4 linked regions of the Homo sapiens genome follow. The gene in region 1 interacts genetically with each later gene. Each region holds a gene or a part of one and is shown in the gene's direction. Other genes may lie near its edges.

Region 1 (3,500 bases):
TATAGTACTTGGTACATTATGAAGTGATTTTCATATGTAATCTTCATAGCAGTCCTGTGAGGTATAGGCATTTTTAAGTATCTCTGTTTTGTAGATGAGGAAAACTAAACTTAGACATGTTAAATAGCTTAAATAGACATGTTAAATCATAGAGGTAATGGCAGAGCTAGCATCATCTGAATTCACATCCTGTATTTTCTCCCCTACTGACTCTGAAAGATAGTGGATGAAAAATTGTTTAGTCACATTTGATAATCTATATTTTAATTTATTTGTATTACTGGATAGACCTTAGATGGCGTAATTAAGATGGAGAGCAATAAGCTTGGTATTTCTTTCTCAGCAGTTGACTGAATTTCCTAGGGCTACTCTGTATATAATTTTTGTGTTTTTACTTTTGTTAGGCATTTGAGAACAACCTTTTTCGTGCTCCAATTTATCTTCATAAGATGCCAGAAACTGATTTCTTGATCATTCGGACAAGACAGGGTTACTATATTCGGGAATTAGTGGATATTTTTGTGGTTGGCCAGCAGTGTCCCTTGTTTGAAGTTCCTGGGCCTAACTCCAAAAGGGCCAATACGCATATTCGAGACTTTCTACAGGTAAGAATGGGAGGATAGGGAGGGGATTGGGTTGTATACAGAAAGGGTATGTTGGGGCCGGGCATGGCGGCTCATGGCTGTAATCCCAGCACTTTGGGAGGCCGCGGTGAATGGATCACTTGAGGTCAGGAGTTCGAGACCAGCCTGACCATCATGGTGAAACCCTGTCTCTACTAAAAATACAAAAATTAGCTGGGCGTGGTGGCTCACGCCTGTGATCCCAGCACTTTGGAAGGCCGAGGTGGGCGGATCACCTGAGGTTGGGAGTTTGAGACCAGCCTGACCAACATGGAGAAACCCCGTCTCTACTAAAAATACAAAATTAGCCAGGCGTGGTGGCACATGCCTGTAATCCCAGCTACTCAGGAGGCTGAGGCAGGAGAATCGCTTGAACCTAGGAGGCGGAGGTTGCAGTGAGCCGAGATCGCACCACTGCACTCCAGCCTGGGCAACAAGAGTGAAACTCAGTCTCAAAAAAAAAAAAAAAATTTAGCCAGGCATGGTGGCGCACGCCTATGGTCCCAGCTACTCTGGAGGCTGAGGCAGGAAAATCACTGGAGCCCGGGAGGCAGAGGTTGCAGTGAGCTGAGATCAAGGCACTGCACTCTACTCTGGGTGACAGAGCGAGACTCCGTCTCAGAAAAAGTAGGCTGTGTGGGTTTGGGAGCACATCGGGAAAGATGAAAATACATTAGAGCTTAGCAAAGGAAGAGGCCCTAGTGAGGACTTTTATCCTTTTCTTTGCCAAATAAAATACACTTGGTTTGTTGGGCAGGTTTTTATTTACCGCCTTTTCTGGAAAAGTAAAGATCGGCCACGGAGGATACGAATGGAAGATATAAAAAAAGCCTTTCCTTCCCATTCAGAAAGCAGCATCCGGAAGAGGCTAAAGCTCTGCGCTGACTTCAAACGCACAGGTCGTCTGTTGTGACTAGTTATTTGTCTGCCTTTTTCCAAGAAAAGAATTTTGATGGCTTTGAGTTAAAGGATAAGCATATAGTTAATAAAATAGAAATTGATGGCTGTTGAAAGGAGGTAGCAGATCTTCTAACACTCTGGTTGCTTTTTTGAATTTGGCTGCCAGGAAGTTTAATGTGATTGTTGGATATCTTCTATGAGTTGTAGGAAACTTAGCAGCTGGGGTTTTCTTGGCCAGTCATGCCAACTGTGGCTAGGCCTGTTACAGTTTTGGTTTGCTGTCCCTGTTGCTGTCAATAAATATCAGGGCCTTTGGAATTCAGAATGGTCTCATTCTCTATGTATATGTCTTTTCCAGGGATGGACTCAAACTGGTGGGTGCTTAAGTCTGATTTTCGTTTACCAACGGAAGAAGAGATCAGAGCTATGGTGTCACCAGAGCAGTGCTGTGCTTATTATAGCATGATAGCTGCAGAGCAACGACTGAAGGTGAACACCTTCCTCTTAGACACCACTTATGCCTGTGGTTTTTTGTTTTTTTTTTTCTTCCCCCCAGAGAGATGAGAGAGAAGATTCTTTCTCTGACTGGCTTAGGGAGGATGGTTTACTAGATTATTACCAATTACTAAAAAGTTCAATTTGTATAAAGTACTTCTACGTACATCAGTTCTGGAGAAAAACTATAGTGTAGCTAAGTATCAGTGGGAAGGCATAATGAGGAACTTTGGGCATATTGTTTTGCTTTGAAAATGGTGACTGGGTGACTTTAATCTCTTCTTTGCAAGATAAGCATATAAGCAGGGAAAGTACTTGTCAGCCTCTCAGGTAGGCAGAGATGATGATGGTGCTGAATGTGTGGTTTAGAGAAGCACAGAATTCTTATAAGGCCAAAAGAGAAAAGGTCCAGCTGAGGTGTGACAGCACAGCTCTGTCCCACTGAGTTAATGAGACTCAGTTATTGAGCATCTCTGTTCAGCTTGCTTATGGGCTGTAACTATCTGTATATCAGCTAGTAAGCTCCTTGGCATGTTGTAATGTATCTTATAGCTTAAGGATGTGCCGTGGTGTTAGATATAGTGAAGACTTTATGGAATCCATCTATGCAAAATAGACTTTGGTATTCTGTACTTGTATTCAGTAAAAAAAAAACTTGTGCTTTGTGTTTTTTAACTGACTGATTTATGCATGGATCTGTCCTCTTCCAGGATGCTGGCTATGGTGAGAAATCCTTTTTTGCTCCAGAAGAAGAAAATGAGGAAGATTTCCAGATGAAGATTGATGATGAAGTAAGGCTTTATACTAGTTTGTATTAGTCATTAATACATCTCATTTATCCTTTTAAAAGAGACAGCTTTATTGAGATAACATAAAATAAACTGTACACATTTAAAGTATACTGTTAGATGTTCTTGCTTTATTCATGCCAGAAAAAATGATGCGATATATCAAATATTATATTTTATATGATATGGGTTTGTTTTTTTTTGTTTGTTTTGTTTTTTGACAGAATCTTGCTCTGTCACCCAGGCTGGAGTGCAGTGGTGGCATGACCTCGACTCACTGCAACCTTCACCTACCGGGGTTCCTGCAATTCTCGCGATTCTCCTGCCTCAGCCTCCCGAGTAGCTGAAATTACAGTTGCACGCCACCATGCCCAGCTAATTTTTTGTATTTTTAGTAGAGATGGTGTTTCACCATGTTGGCCAGACTGGTCTTGAGCTCCTGACCTCAAGTGATCCTCGTGCCTTGGCCTCCCAAAGGGCTGGGATTACAGGCATGAGTCACTGCACCTGGCAGGATTTTCATTTCTTCTAGAAAAAAGACTTTGACCTGATTTATAAGACTTCACATGATTTGGGCCTTGCATATTAATCTGACCTCCTTTCATCTCCTGTCACTGCCTGTCTTATATTCTAAGCTCCAACCATACCGAAGTTCATTCAGTTTCCTAAATTTCTCTTCCCTTTCAGAATTTTT
Region 2 (3,500 bases), on another chromosome or scaffold:
TTCCTTCCTTCCTTCCTTCCTTCCTTCCCTCCCTCCCTCCCTCCCTCCCTCCCTCCCTCCCTCCCTCCCTCTTTCTTTCTTTCTTTCTCTTCTTTCTTTCTTTCTTTCTTTCTTTCTTTCTTTCTTTCTTTCTTTCTTTCTTTCTTTCTTTCTTTCTTCATTTCTGTCTTGATGAACAGTGTTACTCTTAGGAAAGCAATATTACATACTAGCCAAGAGAATCTTGACGACAGACTTGGATTCAGATCCTTATTCCAGCAGTAAGCATGACCTTGGGGAAGTTATTAAATTTTCTAGGCCTCAGGTGTATCCTTTGTAAAATGGGGATGATGATAAAGTAGTAACTCATAAGGGTTGTGAGAATGAAATTCCGAGGTATTTAAAGTGTTTAGTATAGTACCTGTGTCATCGTAAACACTCAGATTACTGTGTCTTTACCACTCTCATCCTTATTAATGTTTCTCAAATCATTTCGAATGCTAACTTTGCTAATGTAGATTGGAATTGTAGAAAGAGCACTTCAGTGCTCCTGGTAATCAGGAGACATGCATTCCAGTCTGCATCCACCAGTAACTAACAACACTTCTATGATTGTTTTACTCCAAAGGTACATTTTCTCATCCACAAAATGATTGCCACTATCCCTATCAATTTTCATGGTTTATGGTTTCTTTCTTTTGCTTTCATACCTGAATCCTGAGGGTTCTTATTGGTGTGTGACCCCAGTCAATCACTATCCTTCCTTTTAGGCCACTTACTCCTTTCCTTTTATGTTTCTTCTCCATCTGTGCATATTGGAGTGCCTCATGGTTTAGGTTTTGGCTTTTCTTTTAGTCTCTGCTTGACATAGGTAGTGTAACGAAGTTGATAAAAGTACATGCTCTGGAGCCAGACTGCTTGGATTTGAATCCCAGCTCTGAAATTTGCTGCATGACATTGGGCAAGTCTTTGTGCCTCATTTTCCTCATCTGAATTGTTTTGAGACTTTAAATGGATTGAATATATGTCAATAACTAGAACAATGTCTGGGACAGAATAAGTCACCATTTAAGCTTTGCTGCTGCTTTATTTGCAGTAATTATAGTAGTATTCTTTAAGGTATTCTTATCTGTGCTCACGGCTTTAAATATTTATATTCTAATAAGTCCTAGATTTATATTTCTGCCAGTAATGGCTCTTGAATGCCTCTTTTGAATACCCATTGCCTGTTTGACGTCACTATTTGGATATCTCATAGGCATCTCATATTTAACATGTACAAAATAGAATTATAGACTTGTTCTTCTCCTTACTTTCCATCACAGCACCCTATATTTCTAGAATTTTCCACAGCCTGTAACTATCTTGTTTGTTTTCTTCTTTGTTTTCCTCATCAGAATGTATGCTACTGAGGGCAGGGACTATGCTTTTTCACCTGTTTTATCTCCAGTGCTGAACCTGTTAATTCACAAAGTAGGATAAATGAATGAGTATGTATTCCATTTTATTATTTATACTAATTTATGTTCTAATATCTTATGCAGGTTATTTTAATATTGTTTTCCCCTGCCTTCTTCAGTCTACCATTCATACTTTTATTTTATTTTATTTTATTTTATTTTATTTTTTTTTTGAGACGGAGTCTCGCTCTGTCGCCCAGGCTGGAGTGCAGTGGCGCAATCTCGGCTCACTGCAAGCTCCGCCTCCCGGGTTCACGCCATTCTCCTGCCTCAGCCTCCCAAGTAGCTGGGACTACAGGCGCCTGCCACTACGCCCGGCTAATTTTTTGTATTTTTAGTAGAGACGGGGTTTCACCGTTTTAGCCGGGATGGTCTCGATCTCCTGACCTCGTGATCCGCCCGCCTCGGCCTCCCAAAGTGCTGGGATTACAGGCGTGAGCCACCGTGCCCGGCCTCATACTTTTATTAAAACGTTTATTTAACGTGAACATTCAGATTTTAACTTCTTTCCTTAGATGTTTTCAGTGACTTTCCATTGAATTGAAGGACCAAAATGTTGTCCTTGTTTCTTGCATTTATGTTCAGGTTTATTTCCTTTCTTTCCAAGCTTTGTAGGAACTGTACATTCCAGCCCCTCAGACTACTTAGTTTTTTCTTTAATAAGTCATGCTAAAGGCCAGGTGTGGTGGCTCACGCCTGTAATCCCAGCACTTTGGGAGGCCAAGGCAGGCAGATCACACGAGGTCAGGAGATCAAGACCGTCCTGGCTAACATGGTGAAACCCTGTCTCTACTAAAAATACAAAAAATTAGTCGGGCGTGGTGGCGGGTGCCTGTAGTCCCAGCTACTCAGGAGGCTGAGGCAGGGGAATGGCATGAACCGGGGAGGCGGAGCTTGCAGTGAGCCGAGATTGCACCACTGCACTCCAGATTGGGCGACAGAGCGAGACTCCGTCTCAGAAAAAAAAAAAAAAAAAAAAAAGTCATGCTAAAGACAGACCTAGAGTCACATCCTTATTCAAAGCAGTAAGCATGACCTTGCTTTTGTTCATGAAGTTCTTTCTCTTTGAAATTGTTCTCTTTCATCATCACATATTGAATAAAAAATGTGACTTAATCGACTTACTCTGTTTTTTTAAAAATTCTCCATATAGTTTAACTTGAATCTGTATACTCCAGATGTATTCTGTTCTTCATTCATTTAACAAATATTTATTGATTGCCGACCACATGCCAGGTCTAGCCCTGCTACATGCTGGGGTATATTGCAGTAACCTATATAAGATATTATATAGGTGAGCAAGGTAGAACCCAGTCCCGACTCTCATGACCATTCTCAGTCATATATAGATGTAGATGAACCCAGAGATTAATCTCATCCTATGTTTAGCCTGATGTTTTAACACATTTGTTCCTTCCTGGCACATTGATAGTGGCCAAGACCAATTTTTCTTGTATTTTTGAACCCTTCCTTTCCTACCTTTAGACCTGTTTCATCACTTCCTCTGTATCTGTAATGTAGCAGTCCCTCCACAGGGCTTGTTTTCCAAAGAAAAGTAAGCCCTCCACAGGGCTTGTTTTCCAAAGAAAAGTATCATTTGGAGGAGCAAAGTTATAAGCCTACCTAAGCATGTCGTAAAGCTGTTCAAAAATAACTCAGAGCTAGTCTTGTGGATGGAAATGTAGTGCCTGAGTCACATTCTGCTTAAAGTTGTAACAAATACAGATGAGTTAAAAGAAAAAAAACAAAAATAAAGAAAGAATGGGTCTTCATTCTGTCAGGTGGTCTCATTGTTCCTAGACAAGATCAAGCTAATTCTTCCCGTTAAACTTTTCATGTTGAACCCACTTTGTTCCCTAGAACATTTGAATTTTACCTTTCTTATGTTCATTAGACCTTGCTATTCAAAGTATGATCCATGTCCAGTAAGATGAGCAATGTTGGCTACACTTGAGTTTGTTAGAAATGCAGACATACGTATCACAGAATCTCAGGCCCCTCTCCTGACCTACACAATCAGGTGATTTATAGCATTTTACTGTTTGAGAAGAAGCTTGCTCT
Region 3 (3,500 bases), on another chromosome or scaffold:
TCCTCAGCAGACTTGCTTGTATATCTCTTTGCCAAGAACTAGGTCATATGCAGAGTTAGTTGAAGTTAAGTTTGGCTGTAAGTAGTAGAAAAACTCTAAATAACAGGGGCTTAAATGAGCTTGAAGTTTCTATCTGACTGATGACCAAAATGTCTGGTGGCAATCCAGGCTGCTGTGGCACTTCATGGTGTCAGGGTCCCAGGCTCTTACCATTATGCGCTGGTTGTATCCTCCATTCTACCCTCCGTGTCCCCCAGGTTACCTCAGGTCCCCAAGTTGGCTGCCGAAGCCCCAACCATTATAGCTCCATTCCAGACAGGAAGGAGGGAAGATAAGTGTGACCCCCATCCCTATAAGTTGCACAAAACATTTCCACTTGGATTTTATTGGCCAGATGTTAGTTTTATAGTCACATTCAGATGCAAAGGCAATTCAGAAATGTCTTTTCCAGGGGTCATGTGTACAGCTGAAAACCAAGGATTATGAACAGCAGTATAGCCCCATGCAGGAGCTCCTAACTTGGGGATCATCTGCAATTCCCAGGCAGGTCCATGAATTTGGATGGCAAAAATAACATCTTTATTTTCATTAACCTTTAACTTACATTTAACTTCCCTTCTGTTATAGATTATAATATCACTATAGTATATCATAGGTAGCGTTAGCAAAACCTGTGACTTACCAGTGGAAATCAGGAGTTGTGTTCACATGTCATTTCTGCTATTATACATATCTTCTAGTGTTGTTTATGTTCACCTCTTTCAAAATTGCGTTCATTATTAGACCTGCTAAGGGGATTCATGGCACCACCCCACCCCTCTACAAGAGAAAAACCAAAAAAAGCCGGGTGCAGTGGCTCATGCCTATAATCCTAGCATTTTGGGAGGTCGAGGTGGGAGGATTGCTTGAGCTCAGGAGTTTGAGGGCAGCTTGGGCAACATAGTGAGGCCTCATCCCTACAAAAAGTTAAAAAACTAGCTGGGCTTGGTGACACCTGCCTGTAGACCCGTCTACTTGGGTAGCTGAGGCGGGAGAATCACTTGAGCCCGGGAGGTCAAGGCTACAGTGAGCTACGATTGTGCCACTGCACTCCAGCCTGGGTAACAGAGTGAGACCCTGCCTCAAAACAACAACAAGCACAACAAAAAAGAAAAAACAGAGCAAATATGAATCCATAGTACTGGTTAAGAACCTGGTGGCTGGGATTCAAATCCTGGCTTTACTACCAGTAAGCTGTATGCAGTTAAGCTCCCTGTGCCTTTGTGTTCTCTGCCTCAAGACGGGGGATTCTGTATTTCCCTCATGGGATTGTGAGGGTCAAATGAATTAAAACATTAAAGCCTGGGGCATAGTAGAGACTAAGGAAATATTTACTGTTATTATTCTGTCATGGTGAAAAAAGGGAAAAGAAACATCAGTGGACCAGCTGCCACGATGTCCTTCTTAATAATCTGAACAAAATCAGGATGCTGTCAGTGAGGCGTGGTTGCCACGGCTGCCATTATTAATCTTCCCCTGGTGCTAGGGTGTCCCTGTAGAATGTCATTTTGTACTCAAGACAACCCTCTGAGGGTAGGTATTCTCATCATCCCCACTTCACAGATGAGAAAATTGAGGCTCAGAAAGGTACAAGGATTGCCCAAGATTCCACAGCTAATATGTAAGCAGTTTAGCCTTGAACCTGGACAGTGCAGCTCTGTAGTACCACCCTAGGCCATCTTTCTCAAGCATTGATGATGCTGTCTGCCTGAAGAAACACTTTTAATGAAACCAAAAGCAGAATCCCAAAGAACAGCAGTGGAAGGAAGGGAGCTCTCTGGATGGGAAAGCAGCCTGATTGTCATGGGCCCACCTCTTGGGCATCCCCAGCTTCAAGTTGGGGTTCCCACGACCCCCTCTTTGGGTTTGATTAATTTGCTGGAGCGGCTCACAGAACTCCAGGAAACACTTAGGTTTACCGGTTTATTATAAAGGATATTCCAAAGGATACAGATGAAGAGGTGCATAGGGTGAGCTATGGAGGAAGGGGCGGGGAGCTTTCGTGCCATCCCTGGGGATGCCACCCTCCAAGAATGTGCATGTTCTGCTATCAGGAAGCTCTCTGAATCCTTTCCTCTTTGGTTTTTATGGAAGCTTCATGATACAAACATTTTTGCCTAAATGACAGTATGATATTGAAATTGAGTCAGGCTGCCTGGCTTCATTGCTTTCCAGTAAGTGACAGCCTCACCTCTGTGCATCAGTGTCCTCACTCGCCTCTGTGCATCAGTGAAGTGGGGACGCTGCTAACAATACATACCTCAGAGCAGTTATGAGGATTCAGTGTGTTAATCATCCATGTCAATCACTTGGATTGCTGCCAAGCACGTAGCAAACAATAAATGTTTGTTGCTATTGTTCTGGCATTTATGATTATGATTATTAATTGTAATTATTCCCTGTACCATCTCATTGTCCTCAGGGCTGTTGCTCACCTAGTATGGCCCTAGCCCATGTGTATATTTCCCCATAGCTCAGGCTGAGAGAAGAACACACAGATCAACTTGGAGAAAACAAAGAGGAAAGAAATAGGCAACTAGGTCAATACTCCCCACAGTATTTTATGTTATTTTATTTTATTTATTTATTTATTTGAGACAGAGTCTCACTCTGTCACCCAGGCTGGAGTGCAGTGGCACCATCTCGGCTCACTGCAAGCTCCACCTCCCAGGTTCACGCCATTCTCCTGCCTCAGCCTCCCGAGTAGCTGGGACTATAGGCGCCCGCCACCACGCCCGGCTAATTTCTTTTTGTATTTATGGTAGAGACGGGGTTTCACCGTGTTAGCCAGGATGGTCTCGATCTCCTAACCTCATGATCCGCCTGCCTCGGCCTCCCAAGGTGCTGGGATTACAGGCATGAGCCACTGCGCCTGGCCTCCCCACAGTATTTTATTATGAAAGTTTTCAGACATGCATAACTTTGGAAGACTAACACAAGGGTCAGCAGACTACAGTCCATGGGTCCAATTCAGCCCACTGTCTGCTTTTGCAAGTAAAGTTATTGGAACACAGCTATGCCTGTTTGCTTCTCTAGTTCTGGTTCTATGGTTGTTTTCAGTGCCACGCAAGCAGAGTTCAGTAGTTAGGTTTGCAAAGCTGAAAATAATTACTGTCTGGCAATGTATAGAATAAGTTTTGCTGACTTCTAGCATAGTGCAGTGAGCACCTCTATACTTACACCCCAGGTCAGTGATTGTTAGTGTTTGCTATATTAGTTTTTTATCTTTCTATAGGTCTGTCTCTATATACGTTTTATTTTTTAGCTGAAAATCAGTTGCAGGTTTTGTAGTACTTTATCCTGAGGTCCGTTTAATGCCAGAATGGTGAGTTTTTGGACTACCTGTATGAAAGATTTACTGTGTGCATTTTTCTGAGGAGAGACCATCACAACACTTCATCAGATGCTCATCGTCTGTGATCGCAGAGATATTCTTCAACTCCTGGACCGGAGAACCCAAC
Region 4 (3,500 bases), on another chromosome or scaffold:
GAATACTTCATTATTTTATATGATGGATGTACAATTGTTCTTATCTAATTTACCACTTTTACAGAAACAGCTGTTATACCCATTAATGGTTCACCTCGAACACCCAGGCGAGGTCAGAACAGGAGTGCACGGATAGCAAAACAACTAGAAAATGATACAAGAATTATTGAAGTTCTCTGTAAAGAACATGAATGTAATATAGATGAGGTAATTTAACTTCATGATTTCTTTAAAACAGTTAAAGTAGATTTAGATGTAAGTTCTCCCTAACAATATTTACTTCTTTTGTTATGAGCATGTTTTTTTTGTAATTAGTGCTAACTCTTTTGCAGTAGCAAAATATTTAGAAAAAATTAATTCGTTATATTTAGTTACTTTGATTTTAAAGAGAGTAGCTCCCTCACTCTGGAATCACTGAAAAGTATATAATCAAGACAATAGTTTTCAAATGTAGTTTTTTTTTTTTTTTATTCCTCTGAGGTTACTGATACCCCTAATGTTTTAAAATACCCTGCCAAGGCTGGGCATGGTGGCTCACACCTGTAATCCCAGCTCTTTGGGAGGCCGAAGTGGGAGGATTTCTTGAGGCCAGGAGGTCTAGACCAGCCTGAACAACATAGCGAGACTCTGTCTCTACAAAATACATATTTAAAAAAATGAACTGGGCATGGTGGCATGTGCCTGTAGTCCCAGCTACTTGGAAGACTGAGGCAAAAGGATTGCTTGAGCCCAGAAGTTTGAGGTTACAGTGAGACATGATTGCACCACTGCACTCCAGCCCGGGCGCCAGAGTGAGACTATGTCTCCAAAAACGAACAAACAAACCAAAAAAGCCCTGCTTAGAAAACTCTAGTGCTCTAGTGTTTTAGTTTAGTGATAAGTGATACCAACATTAAATTTCTGTTTGGCCTTCTATAATTACTCTCTTTCTAAATATTACAGCACATAATGACTGCTGGAGAATACATATGAATTCCCAGGAATTACTTGTCTTGTTCATAGAATGTGGATGTTAGAAGGAATCTTACAAATAATGTATTCAATCTCCTTTTTATAATGAGTAAACAAGCTTCCAGGGACTGATAGCTTATTATTTACAGCGTCTACATTAGACTTTGGGATATCTGGTACTATTGCTTCTTTCCTTTTTACCATACAGTTTTTCTCATAGTTTGTTTTATTGTCCACAATCACTAACACCAGATAGCAGTAAAAAATGTTACATCTTTGAAATTTCTCTGTTAACTTTGGGAAGGAGTGAGAGTGTGGTCCTAAAATCTAGTTTAAGAAGTATTAGAATGATTTATCAAGATATATCATAGTTTTTGCACTATGGCTTACTAATTTCAACAAATATACAGTTGACTCTTGAACAACAGGTTTGAATTGCATGGGTCCGTTTATACACAGATATATTTAATTACATATATTAGAAAAAATTTTGGAGATTTGCAATAATTTGAAAAAATTTGTAGCAAACCGTGTAGCCTACAAATACAGAAAAAATTAAGAAAAAGGCATGTCTTGAATGTACAAAATATATGTAGATACTAGTCTATTTTATCATTTACTATACCATAAAATACATACAAAACTGTAGCTGCAGATGCCTGCTGTTTCAGGCGGACGATTTTTGTTAACAGATGACATAAACTTACTGTAAATGTATTTTGTCTTCTTACAATTTTCCTAATATTTTCTTTTCTCTATCTTTATCATAAGAAGATGATATATTTAGTATGTATATATAGTACATATACAAAATATATGTGAATTCAATCTTTATGTTATTGGTTGGCTTCCAGTCAACAGTAGGCTGTTAGTTAAATTTTGGGTACTCAAAAGTAATCGATAGGTCTGTAGTCTCAGCTACTTGGGAGGCTGAGGTGGAAGGATGGCTTGAGCCCAAGCATTTGAAGCTGTAATGCATGTGATTGCACCTGTGAATAGCCACTACACTTCAGCCTAGGCAATATAGAGAGACCCCTTCTCTAAGAAAATAATAAAAAATAAAAAAGTTATACACAGATTTTTTACTGCATGGGGGATTGACACCTCTAACTTACCCTGCATTGTTCAAGAGTCAAGAGATTAGATTTTGTTTTAAATTTTAATGATCATGTTGTAACTTCATCTTTTTCAGGTGAAAAATGTTTATTTCAAAAATTTTATACCTTTTATGAATTCTCTTGGACTTGTAACATCTAATGGACTTCCAGAGGTAATCTGAAAGGAAATTTAATAAAATATTAATGTTTTGAGACTGTGGAGGGAGGATAATTGTCTAACTTTCTTAGATCAATTTACTGTGTATCACATTTTTTTTTTGCCCAAGAAGAATCTAGCCAAGTAGAATTGTGGTGAAACTAACTTTTGTATAGTAACAAAAAGCTTTTGAGTATATAATCAAATGTATTAGCATCATTTTGTGATTTATACTAGAAATCAATCTTTATTGAATTTTTTCCAAAATCAAAGTATAGACTTTTAAACTTCTAAATACCATTAAATAGCTAAATTTTAATAGCTAAATATAAACCATTAAATTTGCTTTGGTAAGCCTCATTAAGCGTAGGAACCATGATTAATGCCATCAACATTATTGGCATTACTACATTGTGGAACATCTCTTTTGAGGATTTTTAAGAACTGCTTAATTGAAAATACAAATGTATTTGTTGAAATGACTGTGACTATTGCAGAAGTGTTTTACCTTAGTGATATTCCATCCATCTACCTGTTTTGTTTCGCATTTTGCTACAAATGTCTTTCCAATGAGAACAGAATAACTGAGAGCTTTGCATGGTAAGACGAAATATGTGGAGAAAAGGATGCTGTGATAGATGATGAAGAACAAAACCAGTGTTTTAGAAGACATAGTATTAGTCACTATGACCAAAAGGCATGAAATAAAATAGCTAGACTGCTAGTTCTGTAACCTGAATTGATAGCTAGTTTTTGAATTAATTTATTAATTCAACAAATATTTTTTGAATGCTTAATATATGTCAGGCACGTGCTAGATACTATGGATACAGAGATTTCACTCTCAGTCACTATCCTTAAAGTGCTAGTGGGAGAGGCTGACAAAGAAATAGAGCATTACAGGAGTCTACAAGAGTGTGAAAAAAGTATTCACAGGGTTCTGTGATATCTCAAAGGAGAGCTACCTAATCCAAACTAGGGCTGATAGGTTTTGTGGAAAATAGTTTAGAGGTGATGTGATTTCAAATCTGAGTAAGCATTACAGATATAGCATTTCCAAGGGTTGGACATTGTAGATTCAAAGGTGCAGTGATGTATGATAGTATGGTCTGATCAGTGAACTCTAAGTAATTCATTAAGGTTGGGATACAGGGCAGAACAATTAAAATATGGTACTGAAGAGGCAAGAAGGGACCAAATGTTATATTAATGAGTCTTGTTACCACTTTTGGTACCAAAAACTAGGCTGTTCATAACTTTAAAATCTGTTGTAGCAATCTTTTTTTCTCCTTTAA

The links.
Region 2: changes in TAF1 (region 1) and EIF3H together harm fitness more than expected from each alone (negative genetic interaction), as found in Homo sapiens cells (one large-scale study listed by BioGRID).
Region 3: changes in TAF1 (region 1) and PPP2R1A together harm fitness more than expected from each alone (negative genetic interaction), as found in Homo sapiens cells (one large-scale study listed by BioGRID).
Region 4: of TAF1 (region 1) and RB1, changing one suppresses a phenotype caused by changing the other (phenotypic suppression), as found in Homo sapiens cells (one study listed by BioGRID).

The regions. Positions count from the first base shown.
Region 1 is NC_000023.11:71,386,857-71,390,356, forward strand, and holds part of TAF1 (transcription initiation factor TFIID subunit 1), read left to right. Parts: intron 1-404; coding exon 405-605; intron 606-1,380; coding exon 1,381-1,522; intron 1,523-1,881; coding exon 1,882-2,012; intron 2,013-2,728; coding exon 2,729-2,809; intron 2,810-3,500. UniProt on the Homo sapiens protein: The TFIID basal transcription factor complex plays a major role in the initiation of RNA polymerase II (Pol II)-dependent transcription.
Region 2 is NC_000008.11:116,749,324-116,752,823, reverse strand, and holds part of EIF3H (eukaryotic translation initiation factor 3 subunit H), read left to right. Parts: intron 1-3,500.
Region 3 is NC_000019.10:52,196,552-52,200,051, forward strand, and holds part of PPP2R1A (serine/threonine-protein phosphatase 2A 65 kDa regulatory subunit A alpha isoform), read left to right. Parts: intron 1-3,500. UniProt on the Homo sapiens protein: The PR65 subunit of protein phosphatase 2A serves as a scaffolding molecule to coordinate the assembly of the catalytic subunit and a variable regulatory B subunit.
Region 4 is NC_000013.11:48,362,751-48,366,250, forward strand, and holds part of RB1 (retinoblastoma-associated protein), read left to right. Parts: intron 1-64; coding exon 65-207; intron 208-437; exon of another isoform or gene 438-2,143; coding exon 2,144-2,221; exon of another isoform or gene 2,222-2,226; intron 2,227-3,500. UniProt on the Homo sapiens protein: Tumor suppressor that is a key regulator of the G1/S transition of the cell cycle. The hypophosphorylated form binds transcription regulators of the E2F family, preventing transcription of E2F-responsive genes.